4 linked regions of the Homo sapiens genome follow. The protein of the gene in region 2 purifies or fractionates together with the protein of the main gene of each other region. This does not show direct contact. Each region holds a gene or a part of one and is shown on either strand. Other genes may lie near its edges.

Region 1 (3,500 bases), on a different chromosome or scaffold from region 2:
TATTTTCCATGCCAGAATTATCAGATGCAGGAGTAAAATTCTAGCACATGAGCAAGGACTCTACATCTATTGGTTACAAATGACATCATGCTTTCTAAAGAATCATGCTCATTTTTCCTGTTTCTACCAAATTGCATAGTCTGGAGCTCCCTCTCCTGGATTAACATGATTTTATCAATTTCTTCATACTATAAACCAGAGAGGCAGAATTTATCCACAGCAACAAATCATTTAATGAATGTTTATGACTTTTCTTTCTTATTAAAGGGGACATTCTTTTATCCCAACATATAAAGTCGTTGAACTCCATCAAACAATAAGGAGAACCTCACAGATAAAAGGAAGAAGGTGTCATTAAACACATTACCTTTCGGCTGGAAAAATGGGCGTGTTTGCCCAATTTACTGTTAAGTGCTTCAAGAAACATTTCATCGGTGACTTTGCCGACATTCATGCAAGCATCATCAAGGATTGCAATGATCCCTTTGTGCTGTTGCTCCACGAGGTCAACAATGATCTGATTGTTGAAGTAGTCAATCTGTAGGACACAGCAAGGAGGGAATTCTGAAGAGAACAGTGACCAGGCCAGGTTAAACCCTGATGCTCCCATTTGTATCAGGAGTTCAGGTAAAACTACTTTGGTGTCAAATGTGTGAATAACATTAAAGAGGTCTTACGCTAAAAAGAGTACACATTCTAACAGAGGTTTATTTTTAAATTTCTTTGTTAACTTTCTATCATGAAATACACCGTCTGAGATTAGTACAGCCCAAGGCAAAGATAATAAGGTAGACACCATTTCTCCCATTACAAACTCATTTTAATCCTGCCTCCAGATCCCACACCCAACCCTACTCCTTCATACCAATCTGCCTGCCATTAACTGTAAGGTCCACCTTCCACAAAGGGCCAACAAATAACCTTAAAGTATTATCTGATATACTACTTCATAATAAAGTTAAGGTACTACACAAAACTTGCAATTTTATAAAAGTAGGGTACAAGTTAAATGTTTAGTTCTAGAAATTTTGTGCAATATGTTCATAACGATGGCTGCAGTTGCCACAAAGTGCCTCGTTTACCTTTAAATACTGTTAATGTGTCACGCATGCAGATGGAAGGGGTGGAACTGTGCACTAAAGTGGGGGCTTTAACTGTAGTGTTTGGCAGAGTTGCCTTCTACCTGCCAGTTCAAAAGTTCTGTTTTCATGCAGAATATATATACTAAAAAATTTCAGTCTTTTAAACAGCCTTACTCTGATTCAGCCTCTTCAGATACTCTTGTGCTGTGCAGTAGTGGCTCTATGTGTAAATGCCATGCACTGAGGGTACACAAAAATATCAACATTATGTGTACAGGATAATGCCTCATCCCAATCAGATGTCCATTTGTCATTGTGTTTGTTAACAACCCTTTATCTCTTAGTGTTAAATAAACTCCACTTAAAACGGAAAAAAAAAAAAAAGAACTTGCATTTTTAGTTACATGACCCTGAATGACTAAAATCCAAAAGAGCATTTCTTTTGGTTTCCCCAAAGTTAAAAAGCTTCAATAGAATTTTGAACAATTTGAAAAAATTCAGTAGAATTTTTACATTTTTCTAGGCATAATATAAAGAATTTAATTCTGAGAAATAAATATCTATAAAAGATAAGAAAAAGCTTTTCCTTTACTTCCACAAGGTGAATGAAGTTATAAATAACTTCTGGCTTTTCAGCAACTATACATGTACAAGGTTTGTCCAACAATCCTCTGCCACACCTGTTTATTCTGACAGCCTGCAATGTACCTATCACTACACACAGAAGGCACACAAAGAAAGGCCAACTCAGGCAAGCTGCACATCTCAAAGAGGGGCAGCTTATGATCACACAGTTTAATCTTGCTATGTCCCATCTTACGCAGGAGTTACCTAAACTGATTGCTGTCTCCATTACCTTCTATAAGGTCTATATACTCATAATAGACCATTCAAGTGACTCATGTATTCCCATTTCATGCTTTAAAATCCAAGGTTTTATGCCAGTTATTTGTACATGGCTTTTAGCTCCATTTCTAGTCTTGCATGTTCTCTTCTGTATCTTATGGACTGAAACCTGTAAACTGGGTAGTTTTTACTTTGTTTTTTATACTTTTCTGATCTGTCTAAACTAAAGTTTCTCAAATAGGGGAATAGGGGGAATTTTGCTCACCAGGGGACATTTGGCAATATCAGGAGACATTTCTAGTCAAAATGGGGTAGGGGTGCTACTGTCATTTGGTGGGTAGAGGCCAGGGGTGCTGCTAAACATCCTACAATGCATAGAACAGCCTCCACAACAAAGAACTATCTGGCACAAAATCTCAGTAGTACTGAGGTGAAGCAGTGTAGGTCTAAATATTTACTTTCATTATGGGCATTTATTACATTTCTAATTAGGGAGAAAAGTTATTTCCATCTTTGGAAAAAAAATCCTAAAAATACTCAAAAAGCAGGAGCTCTATATTAATAGTTGACATCTTAGACTTCGGGACTGTGAAATTAAAGACGAAGTCTTTTGTCCCAGGGACTAAAGAATTACCTTCCCTAAAATCCCAATTATATTATTAAAAGCTATTGGTCTCTGCTAGTAACTTTCAGTTTGTAAGTTTAATACTGCTTCAAACATTGCTTAAACCAGTAGTTTTCAAACTAAGTTCTTCCAGCAACTTGGCATTCCCGTAAGGTTTCCTAAGGGATACCAGGAGCCAGAAGACTTGTGATGGGGTAGCTTAGGGACATGGGGCTCTGGCCTTTCATACCCACTCCAGATAAAACAGCTTTGTGCTTGAGTATCAAGTTCTCAATAGTTAAAATGATTTGCAAACTACAGCATCGAAAGCTTTTAAAAGTGAATGTACCAGATAACCAGACATTATGAACCTCCTGGTGGAAGTTCACACACAGTCTATGAAATGGGCTGTGGAAAAAAACTGACTCTGAATCCAGTCAAGACTCTAGATCTAACAACCAATATACAGGACATACAAGAAACAGAGAAACATATTAAATGGCACCTGAGGAATGCAATTAGCAAAATCCAGACTGTGGGGAACTCCATAACAAATGACTCATTCTCTTCAACACAAGATTGCAAAGAGAGATCATTCAAGGAAAAAAAGAAACATGGAGAAAATCTATAGATATGCAAGAGACCTATCAATCAATCATAATGTAAGAAACTTATTTGGATCCAAATTTAACCTGCAAAACAACAACCAGAAGACAATTAAGGAAATATGAAACATGTATACTGACTGGATATTTTATGATATTAAGGAATTTTTGTTAATGTTTTAGGTATGATAATGGCATTGTGATTATGGTTTTTGTAAAACTCTCTTAGAGAAATACATGGAAATATTTACTGAATAGATACCCAATTGAATAGATGAAATAATGTGATATCTGAAATTTGCTTCAAAATAATCTGGGAGTAGGTGGGTATAGTACAGATGGCATAAGACTGGCAATCAACTG
Region 2 (3,500 bases):
CTTCATGTCTGCCTTTCCCCATCTCTCTCCCCCGAGTTCTCCGTTTCCCCCCATTTCTCTCTTTCCCTCTCCATCTTGTTCTGTCTCTGTTCATCTCTGCCTCTCCCCCACTTCTCTCCTCCTCATTTCTCTCTCCTTTCCGTCCCTCTCTTAGTTTCTCTCAACCTCCCTCTTGTCTCTGTTCATCTCTGCCTCTCCCCATCTCTCTCCCCCCATTTCTCTCTCTCCTTCCCCCCATCTCTTTCTATCTCTGTCCCTCCCTTTTTGTCTCTGTTTGGCTCTTGCCTCTCCCCATGTCTGGACGTGTCTCCATGTCCTGTTATATCCTGGTAGATCTCCATCTCCCTCCCTTGTGAGTTTCTTTCTTTTTCTCTCTCAATACCTGTGTTTCTCCAGAGCTAATTTTTTCCCCTCTCCCGTCACCGTTTCTCTCTCTCCTTTCCCTTGTCCTTCTCTTAGTTTCTATTTCCCTCTTGTCTCTGTTCACCTCTCTCTCCCCATCTCTCTCTCTCCTTTCTCCCACCCCTTTCCATCTTGTTCTGTCTGTTCGCCCCCTCTGTCTCTGTCTCTGCTCATCTCTGCCTCTCCCTATCTCTCCCCACCCCCTTTTCTCTCTCTCTCCTTGCTCCCGTTCCTCTCCATCTCTGTCTCTCTGTTCCTCACTTATTCTCTATTTCCCTCTCATCTCTGTTCACCTCTGCCTCTCCCCATCTCTCTCCCTCCCCTTCCTCCCATCTCTTTTTAACTCTGTCCTCCCTTTTTGTCTGTGGCCTCTCCCCATCTCCCCCACATTTCTCTCTCTCCATCTCGTTCTCTCTCTCTCTGTCCCTGTTCGTCTCTGCCTCTCTCCATCGCTCTCTGCGTGTGCTGCTGTCTCTTTCCCTCCTTGCCTCTGTCTCAGCGGTTTTCTTAGCCTTTCCTCCTCCTCTGTCTCTCTCCCTGGCTCCCTCTCTTTTCTTGTTGCCTCGGTCTCCTTGGCTCCATCTCCTTCTTTTGTATCTATTGGTAGATATCTATTTCCCTCCCTTGTGAGTTTCTTTCTCTTTCTCAGTATCTGTGTTTCTCCAGAGCTACTTTTCTCTCTCTCCCTCCCTCTCTCTCTTGCTCCCCATCTCTGTGTGTGTGCACGTGCGTGCGCGTGTGTGCGCATGTGTGAGCGTATGTGCATGTGTATATGTGTATGTGCGTGTGTGTGTCCTGTGTGTGCGTGCTTGTGTGTGCATGTGTGTATGTGTATGTGCGTGTGTCCATCTGTGTGTGTGTCCTTCTGTGTGTGTGCATGTGTGTGTGTGCATGGGTGTGTCCTTCTGTGTGTGCGCGCATGTGTGTACGTCTGTGTGTGTATGTGTACGTGTGTGTCCATCTGTGTGCATGTGTGTGCATGTGTGTCCATCTGTGTGTGTGTGTGCGCACATGTGTGTATGTGTTCTCTTTCTCTCCTAGTCTCTTCATCCATCTATCCACCTTTTAGATGCTGAGAACCATGCCCAGCTGCCCAGGTGCCAGGAACCCGGACATCCTCATCCACTACCAAGCAACAGACAATCCCCACCCTGTGGTCCCAGCTGCTGTCAAGGGACAGAGCCTGTGTGTCTTCTGGCCTCTCTCTCCCTCCATCTTTTTTCTGCCTGCTCCATTTCTCCCCCATCACCTGGGGGTGCCTCCACTTCTCCAAACCTCGCCCATCATCCAGGGCCTGCTCTCTGTTCACCCAAACGCCCTCAGTGCCCCACCCATGACCCCTACCAGTGCCTCCTTAGCATTTGCCTGGCCCTCATGGACAGGCTGTGTCTCTAACAGAGACACACATCTGGCTCTTCTGCCTCATAAAACCAGTTCCCATGCACAGCCAGGGCAGCTCTGAGTTGGGAGCCTGGCTTTACCACAGGGATGGCTGTCTCATCTCTTGGTCTATACAATGGGGACATTTCCAAGACTGAATGAGCACCTGCATTCCTAGTGCACAGCATTCTCAGTTTCTGACACATGGAAAAGACTCAAGATGTGAAATTAACATTGCCTGGCCAAGCGTGGTGGCTCACGCCTGTAATCCCAGCACTTTGGGAGGCCAAAGTGGGTGGATCACCTGAGGCCAGGAGTTCGAGACCAGCCTGGCCAACATGGTGAAACCCCATCTCTACCAAAAATACAAAATTAGCCAGGCATGGTGGTGTGCATCTGTAGTCCCAGTTACTCGGGAGGCTGAGGCAGGAGAATTGCTTGAGCCCAGGAGGGGGAGGTTGCAGTGAGCCGAGATCACGCCACTGCACTCCAGCCTGGGTGACAGAATGAGACTCCATCTTAAAAAAAAAAAAGAAAGAAAAAGAAAAAAAAGAACATCGCCATCGTTATTATTTAGTACTATTATCTTGGGCTTGCAGAGGCCTAAGACTCAGTCTGCTGGTGGCCCAGCACAGGCCTGGCACATGGAAAGCATCCACCAAGACTCGAGGGTTTGCCTTGAAGATATTCATGGAAAGACTCAAATGTTACCTTTCTCATCAAAGATGAAGAAGAAAAGATAAAAGAGTATTTATGGGCCAGGCGTGGTGGCTCATGCCTGTAATCCCAGCACTTTGGGAGGCGGAAGTGGGTGGATCACGAGGGCCAACATGGTGAAACCCCGTCTCTACTAAAAATACAAAAATTAGCTGGGCGTGGTGGCAGGCGCCTGTAATCCCAGCTACTTGGGAAGCTGAGGCAGGAGAATCGCTTGAACCCGGGAGGCGGAGGTTGCAGTGAGCTGAGATCACCCCACTGCACTCCAGCCTGGCGACCGAGCGAGACTCTGTTTCAAAAAAAAAAGAGTATTTACGATGACAAGGCCCCCGAAGGCCAGGCACAGTGGCTCACGCCTATAATCCCTGCACTTTGGGAGGCCAAAGTGGGTGGATCACTTGAGCTCAGGAGTTCAAGGCCAGCCTGGCCAACATGGTGAAACCCCATCTCTACTAAAAATACAAAAATCAGCCAGGTGTGGTGGCGTGCGCCTGTAATTCCAGCTATTAGGAAGGCTGAGGCAGGAGAATCACTTGAATCTAGGAGGCGGAGGTTGCAGTGAGCTGAGATTACACCACTGAACTCCAGCCTGGGGGACAGAGTGAGACTCCATCTCGAAAAAAAGAAGGCCCCCAGAGTATCTTAAAAATGAGCCTGGTAGGAAAAATATCTAAGATCCAGTTGCCACACCTGCTATCACTGTGTTTACTGCTGGCTCAGAGAACAGTCAAGACTTGCAAATAGTAAAACTGCATGAAGCCAACAGGCAGATTTGGGAAAAGGAGCCGAATGTTCAGCGCAAGCTGTGAAATGAACTCTCTCCCTTGTATTAATTGAACCTACCATTATGTATATTGCAAGGAAGTCTCTATTCATCAGAAGACAATCCCAAACCCCTAAGATTTTCCTTCCTCCCTGCAGGTCAATAAAAAGTGATTCTAGCCGATTCACAATGTCTTTCTAGAGCACCCACTAAGAATGTGTCCAGCCTGGGAGGGCAC
Region 3 (3,500 bases), on a different chromosome or scaffold from region 2:
ACCACCCCACTCCCAATCTTTCATCAACTTTATTGAGGTATAATATACTTGAAAAGTCCCTCATTTTAAGTGTACAGTTTGATGAGTTTTGACACATATATTCTGTCATGTAACCACCGCCACAAACAAGATGCAGAACATTTCCATCACCCCAAAAGTTCCCTTGTGCTTTGTCTCTTATCTTCCCCAACATCTTCAGGGAGTTTACTGGAGTTATGCTTGCTCATTAGGGCAGAAGGAAGTTTTTTCTTTTTGGTTTTTCCGAAATGAATGCTATGGTTCCACCTTAGCCCAACCAATAGAGATACTTATTACAAAGGCCTGGCATTGGAGATCATGGCTGTGGAGTTTCATTTTCAGTGGGAGGCGGAAGTGGATATAAAAGGAGTTTAGATGATTTTTGTTTAATCTTTCCTTCACACACTGACCACTTTGCCTTTATTAATGATGTCTGCCTTTGATGCCTTCTGAAATGCCCTTTGGTTAATTTTGCCCTTTAACGGTTCCTCTTCCCCATCTGTCTTGGTTGTAACATCAGTCTGAGTTTGTGCTGATACAACCTAAACTTTGCAGAAACTTATCCCTGGCTCTTCATGCCTCAGGCATTCTCCATTTCTCTTCTAAGCCCTCCTCACTTGGAATTCTTTTTAACTAGCAGGCATTAGCGTTAAATATCTCCTTGTACAGCAAAGGCTTTTTGCCAATTGTAGAACTTAGGGATGATGTAATTATTTTTTGATTTCAAAATAATGGTTCTAAACTTGATTGAAATCAAGGGAGAAGTGCATTGTACATAATGCACTAAGTGTTCATGAGGACCATGTATCTACCTCCTGTGGCCTAATGTACTACTGTGGCCAAAAATGTGGGCAAGATGCTGGGCTAGAGGGAGACTGGATGCACAAAAAAGATAGGTTTTGTCCATCTTTTGTCACATATACAAAAACATATAGTCCTGGCCAGGAATCCTGCATGTGTGGTTGGGGTTTCTACTTCTTGACAAATGTACATGAAACTAGAGAAATTTCAGAATAGGAGAAGTAAAATGATCAGGGCAGTGAAGAGGCTAGACAGATTAAAGGTGTCGAACTCTCTAGTTTAGAAAGATGAAGGTGAGCTGGGAATACAGTAGAGGTTTTTTTTTTTTTTTTTTGAGACAGAGTCTCGCTCTGTCACCCAGGCTGGAGTGCAGTGGCGTGATCTCAGCTCACTGCAACCTCTGCCTCCTGTGTTCAATCGATTCTTCTGCCTCAGCCTCCCGAGTAGCTGGGACTACAGGCATGTGCCACCACCCCTGGCTAATTTTTGTATTTTTAGTAGCGATGGGGTTTCACAGTACTGGCCAGGCGGGTCTCGAACTCCTGACCATGTGATACGCCTGCCTCGGCCTCCCAAAGTGCTGAGATTACTGGCGTGAACCACTGTGCCCAGCCCTATAGTAGACTCTTTGACATCCAGAATAGTGGAAGTTTGTAACATCAAATCTCAGTTTAGTAGGGATATGTTTTAGATCTTGAAACAAATCAATATATGCCATTTTAAATGAATTTCTACTTTAAACATTTACATTTTACATTTCTGAAACTCATCACTTCAAGTTATGGTATTAGCTGAGGTACAGGATGTAAATAGAGAGGGTCTGGGTAATTTATGGATGAGAGGTTTGGCACATTGACTTACCAAACCTCTCTTTAACAGTGTTAGTCAGTTTACCAGCCACAGCTGTTTTAGTTGGAAGAAACAGAAACCCAAACTCAAAGCCAAAGAGGAGTTTATTTGCTCATGTGACTTAAAAATCTAGGCATGGCTGGAATCAAGGCTCAGACATGGTCATTGGGGCTCTCTTCACTGACTCTCACATGCTGTCTGACATTGGTTTCATCCTGAGGGCAGCTTTTTTTAGGGGTGAAAAGATGGTCAGTGGCACCTGCAGATCACATGATCTTACAGCACTGGGCCTGGAGGAAGAGAGCCTGATAGAGGAATTCTGGTCATGTGCCTTCTCCTTTCATTGGGCCTCTAGGCAGTAGGTGAGGAGCACCATGAGTGGTCAAGTCTGTGCTCACCCCAGAGACCAGGGGGAGGACAGGGCACTGTGATTGATAGTCCTACTCCAACCTCATGGGATGGCTGTGAGCTGTTCGCCATTGGAAGGAAAAGTGCTAGGTAGTCAAAATAAACAACTACCCTCAGTCCATGTATGCTATGAATAGGTCACTGAAAATGATAGTCATGGAATTCTACCCCTCCTTTTCTGATCTTTGAGCAAGAAGAATGGGAAATTTTGCTTGACCGGGGACATTAGGTATCTTTCCCCTAGAGAATCATTTTGGATTGAAAAATAGAAGCCAGGCCAGGTGCGGTGGCTCATGCCTGTAATCCTCAGCACTTTGGGAGGCCAAGGCGGGCGGATCATGAGGTCAGGAGCTTGAGACCAGCTTGGCTAACACGGTGAAACCCTGTCTCTACTAAAAATACAAAAATTAGCCGGGCGTGGTGGCGTGTGCCTGTAATCCCAGCTACTCAGGAGGCCGAGGCAGGAGAATCGCTTGAACCCGGGAAGCAGAGGTTCCAGTGAGTTGAGATCGTGCCGGTGCACTCCAGCCTGGGCGACAAAGCAAGACTCTGTCTCAAAAAAAAAAGCCATGGAGCGTCTGTGCAAGCAAATGTTACTAATAGCATGTTAGAAATTGAAATTTTGAAAATTTATTCAGTCTTCAATTTTGATTTTTCATGTATTATTATTATTATTATTATTATTATTTTTTTTAGACAAGGTCTCGTTCTGTTGCCCACACTAGAGTGCAGTAGCGCAAGCATAGCTCACTGCAGCCTCGAACTCCTGGGCTCAAGCAGCCCTCCCAGCTCAGCCTCCTGAGTAACCGGGACTGTAAGCGCATGCCACCATGCCTGGCTAATTTTTTAATTTTTGTAGAGACAGAGTCTCACTTTGTTTCTCAGACTAGTCTCAAACTTTTGGCTTCAAGCAATCTCCCACTTAATTATCCCAAAAGTGCTGAGATTATAGGCGGGAGCTACCATGCCCGGCCATTATTCAGTCTTAATTTGGGGGCTATGAACCCTATGTCACCTTTCTTACTGATTTCTTTCTACCGTATTTCCTCAGCATTTTATTTCCCCTATTTTCTTCACATCCTTGCTTGCATACGTTATTCTCTTCCCCTATTTTCATACATAGATAAGTTGCACGATTTCTTATTGCACAACAGTAAGAATTGTGCACAATTTCTTTTTGCCTGTCCGTCATTCCTTGTTCATGTCTAGTGGTAGTCTGTCTTCTGTTCTCTTCCTTCCACCTGTTCATCTGCTTTATCCCCCTACTATTTAATTTTATCTACCCACCCCTTATGCCCTGTTATGATTTGTTATAACGAAGTATATATACATCCCACACCTATAATGGAATAAAATAAGTTACTAAAGGGTGAATCTTTTTTTCATAACTTAGATTGAGGAGGGAACTTCATTTTTGTTTTTGC
Region 4 (3,500 bases), on a different chromosome or scaffold from region 2:
AAGTGGCATCTTACAGTTTGCAAAGAGATTCACAGTCGCAAACCTCCCAGGATCTATAGCATTCTGTAGAAGACCTAACTTGTTCTTCATGTTGTCAGTGATTCTGTTGCTCACTCCATTCATTAGATAGACATCTACTACGTGGTTTGGCTAATAAGAAACGCTCAGCACTGACATAGGAGGTGGCCAACAGTCAGAATGAGAATTTTTAAAAATTAGCCCTTCCCTGGTACTTAACTTTCTTTTTGAAATACAGGCTGTACTCATGAGGCACAATTTTTGGATTGTGATTGAAACAGACAAATGTGCTTTTTAAATGGTCTTTATATTTTAGAGGTACAGCCTGAAGGTTTTACAAGTGAAATATGATGTCTGGGATTTGCTTCAAAATAACCTAGGGGGAGAAGGGAGCAGGTGGAGGCACACATGAAATGGAATTGACCATGAGTTGATGCTTGTTAAGGTCAAGGTGATGCTTCTGTGTGGGGCTTATTATGCTGGTCTGTGTGCTTGTATGTGTGTTTGAAATTTTTACAAGAAAACACTCATTTTTTGCCATGGTTTCATTCTAAAATTAACGATGAGTAAATTATTTAGCCGAAGTTACTCTTGAACATTTCCTTAAGTTGGCCATGTGTTGATTTGTACAACCCTAGTTTTGGTTTTTTGGGGTTTGTTTTTGTTTTTGTTTTTTTGTTCTGTTTTTGAGACGGAGTCTCGCTTTGTTGCCCAGGCTGGAGTGCAATGGCGCAATCTCGGCTCACTGCAACCTCCACCTCCTCGGTTCAAGTGATTCCCTTGCCTCAGCCTCCCCAGTAGCTGGGATTACAGGCGCCTGCTACCACGCCCAGCTAATTTTTGTATTTTTAGTAGAGACGAGGTTTCACCACGTTGGCCAGGCTGGTCTCGAACTCTTGACCTCAGGTGATCCACCCACCTCGGCCTCCCAAAGTGCTAGGACTACAGGCGTGAGCCACTGCGCCCAGCCTGGGTTTTGTTTTGTTTAACTTTTTTTTTAATTTCGTTTTTTGGAGGGGATGGGAGCTTTCCACCAGAAACCAGAAATCCTGCTAGACAAATTCTAAAAGAGCTGTAACACTTTGTTTTTAATTTTAATTTTTATGCGTATATATTAAGTGTGTGTGTGTGTATGTATGTATGTGTGTATATATATATATATATATATATATATATATATATATATATATATGGGGTACATGAGATGTTTTGATACAGGCATGTAGTGTGTAATAATCACCTCATATAAAATGGGGTAATCTATCTGTGATCCTGTGTAATAGCATGTTTATCATAAACAGTAATGTAGATTATAAAGATCTGCACGTTCTAATAAAAATACATGTAAACTCTATGCTCCCGCCCAGTTTGATGAGGTGCTTCTGCTGTGAAAGGTACACTTGAACTGAGACAGCTCATTTCTCACGACCTGTACTATTTAAATTATTGTTTTCATGTTCTCTTTCTCTCTTCTTTGGCCGAACATGTATATAGTTGGATTCAGCTAAATTAAATACACATTTGATGAGTGCTACTACATTATTCATGTTTGTCTGTGTTGCTATTATTCCAAAATGTGAATTTTAATTACTATATATTATTCCATTTAACAAATGTGCCAACATTTAATTACCAAGACCTTTTTGTAGCATGTTCATAGTTACTCAATATTATAAATAACTTATCACTGTATGTCTTTTTATATAAATTGCATCTGTGACAATTTCCTGAAATTGCTGGTTGAAAGGAAAGGCTCATTTTTAAAGCTATGTTTTGCCATGTTGGCTTCTAGAAGGATTGACCCAGTTTGTACTTTAGCCTGTAGCGGATACAAATGTCTATTTCACATAACTGCATTTCATATTTTTTTAAATATCCTTGGCATTTTGAGAATCAAAAATTAGTATCTAGGCTGAGGCGGATGGATCATGAGGTCAGGAGATCAAGACCATCCTGGCTAACATGGTGAAACCCCATCTCTACCAAAAAAAAAATCAAAAAATTAGCCGGGCGTGGTGGCGGGCACCTGTAGTCCCAGCTACTCGGGAGGCTGAGGCAGGAGAATGGCGTGAACCCAGGAGGTGGAGGTTGCAGCGAGCCGAGGTGGCACCACTGCACTTCAGCCTGGGCAACAGAGCGAGACTCCGTGTCAAAAAAAAAAAAAAAATTAGTATCTCATTGTAATGCATTCCTGTGCACAATGAATGTGTGGTCAAATCTCGAGAAAGTGGCGAGACTGACTGTGTGTTCTTCACAAGGACCTGGAAGAACAGCTAGACGAGGAGGAAGGGGCTCGGCAAAAGCTGCAGCTGGAAAAGGTGACAGCAGAGGCCAAGATCAAGAAGATGGAAGAGGAGATTCTGCTTCTCGAGGACCAAAATTCCAAGTTCATCAAAGTAAGAGAGTGTTCCCACAAAAAGCTGATTTTAGTTACAGAAAATATTTATATAATATTATGTTGATACACTCATTGAAAGTGAACTCAAACAGAAATTTCTCAAGATTTTAGGTTCATTTACTGAATTTTCTCTGTAAGTCTCTACTTGTATAGATTTCTAAAGATACAGGCACCATTGAATTTTTTAAACCTTATCAAATATCCTGATAATCTTTTAGACTTGTAACATGTGCAGTTTGTGCATAATGGTCACTCAATGATGACTTGTCTCCATCTGTGCAAGCATTAATTCATCCACCATTGACTGTGGGACTCTGAATACCAGGCAGCTGGGCCAAGCTCCCGGGGTGGGCACCAAGACGTGTAAGCCTTTCTGCCCTTTTGGAGTACAGTCGTGTGTTGTTTAACGATGAGGACACATTCTGGGAAATGCATTGTGAAGTTATTTTATCCTCGTACAAACATCATAGAGTGTATGGACACAAACTAGATGGTAGAGCCTGCTATACACCTAGACCAGACGCTGGGCTGATTGCATCTAGGCCACACACTTGTACAGCATGTTACTGTCCTGAATACTGTAGGCAGTTGGAACACAGTGCTAATAAGTACTTGTGTATCTAAACATATCCACACAAAAGTCCAGTAAAAATATGATAGAAAAGGTACGGTAAAAATGATAGAAAAGATTTAAAATGGCACACCTCTATTGGGCACTCACCATGAACGGAGCTTGCAGGACTGGAAGCTGCTCTGGGTGAGTCAGTGAGTGAGCGCTGAGTGAATGTGAAGGCCTAGGACATTGCTGTACATGACTGCAGACTTTATCAACATGGCACACTGAGGCTGCAGTACATTTATTTTAAAAATAGAGTAATTGCACTGTGGTGTTATGACAGCTCTCGATGAAGTTTTCAGCTCCATGATCATCTTAGGAGACCACTGTCGTGTATCCGGTTCATCATTGTCCAAAACATCGTTCTGCAGCATGTGATTGTGTACAGTCTGCTGGGGGAGGCAGTGCCGATAGAACTTATTTTCTCTCGAGTCAAAGTTGACCTTTATGAGGAATACAGAACCCAAG

What was found. Proteins that work in one complex are often made in the same cells at the same time.
Region 1: the proteins of SLC8A2 (region 2) and MYO1D purify together in Homo sapiens (affinity purification with mass spectrometry; one large-scale study listed by BioGRID and IntAct). This does not show direct contact.
Region 3: the proteins of SLC8A2 (region 2) and MYO5A purify together in Homo sapiens (affinity purification with mass spectrometry; one large-scale study listed by BioGRID and IntAct). This does not show direct contact.
Region 4: the proteins of SLC8A2 (region 2) and MYH10 purify together in Homo sapiens (affinity purification with mass spectrometry; one large-scale study listed by BioGRID and IntAct). This does not show direct contact.

Annotation. Positions count from the first base shown.
Region 1 is NC_000017.11:32,755,125-32,758,624, forward strand, and holds part of MYO1D (unconventional myosin-Id), read right to left. Parts: intron 539-3,500; coding exon 368-538; intron 1-367. UniProt on the Homo sapiens protein: Unconventional myosin that functions as actin-based motor protein with ATPase activity. Plays a role in endosomal protein trafficking, and especially in the transfer of cargo proteins from early to recycling endosomes.
Region 2 is NC_000019.10:47,458,394-47,461,893, forward strand, and holds part of SLC8A2 (sodium/calcium exchanger 2 precursor), read right to left. Parts: intron 1-3,500. UniProt on the Homo sapiens protein: Mediates the electrogenic exchange of Ca(2+) against Na(+) ions across the cell membrane, and thereby contributes to the regulation of cytoplasmic Ca(2+) levels and Ca(2+)-dependent cellular processes.
Region 3 is NC_000015.10:52,518,881-52,522,380, reverse strand, and holds part of MYO5A (unconventional myosin-Va), read left to right. Parts: intron 1-3,500. UniProt on the Homo sapiens protein: Processive actin-based motor that can move in large steps approximating the 36-nm pseudo-repeat of the actin filament. Can hydrolyze ATP in the presence of actin, which is essential for its function as a motor protein. Involved in melanosome transport.
Region 4 is NC_000017.11:8,508,726-8,512,225, reverse strand, and holds part of MYH10 (myosin-10), read left to right. Parts: intron 1-1,040; exon of another isoform or gene 1,041-1,100; intron 1,101-2,276; coding exon 2,277-2,414; intron 2,415-3,137; exon of another isoform or gene 3,138-3,475; intron 3,476-3,500. UniProt on the Homo sapiens protein: Cellular myosin that appears to play a role in cytokinesis, cell shape, and specialized functions such as secretion and capping. Involved with LARP6 in the stabilization of type I collagen mRNAs for CO1A1 and CO1A2.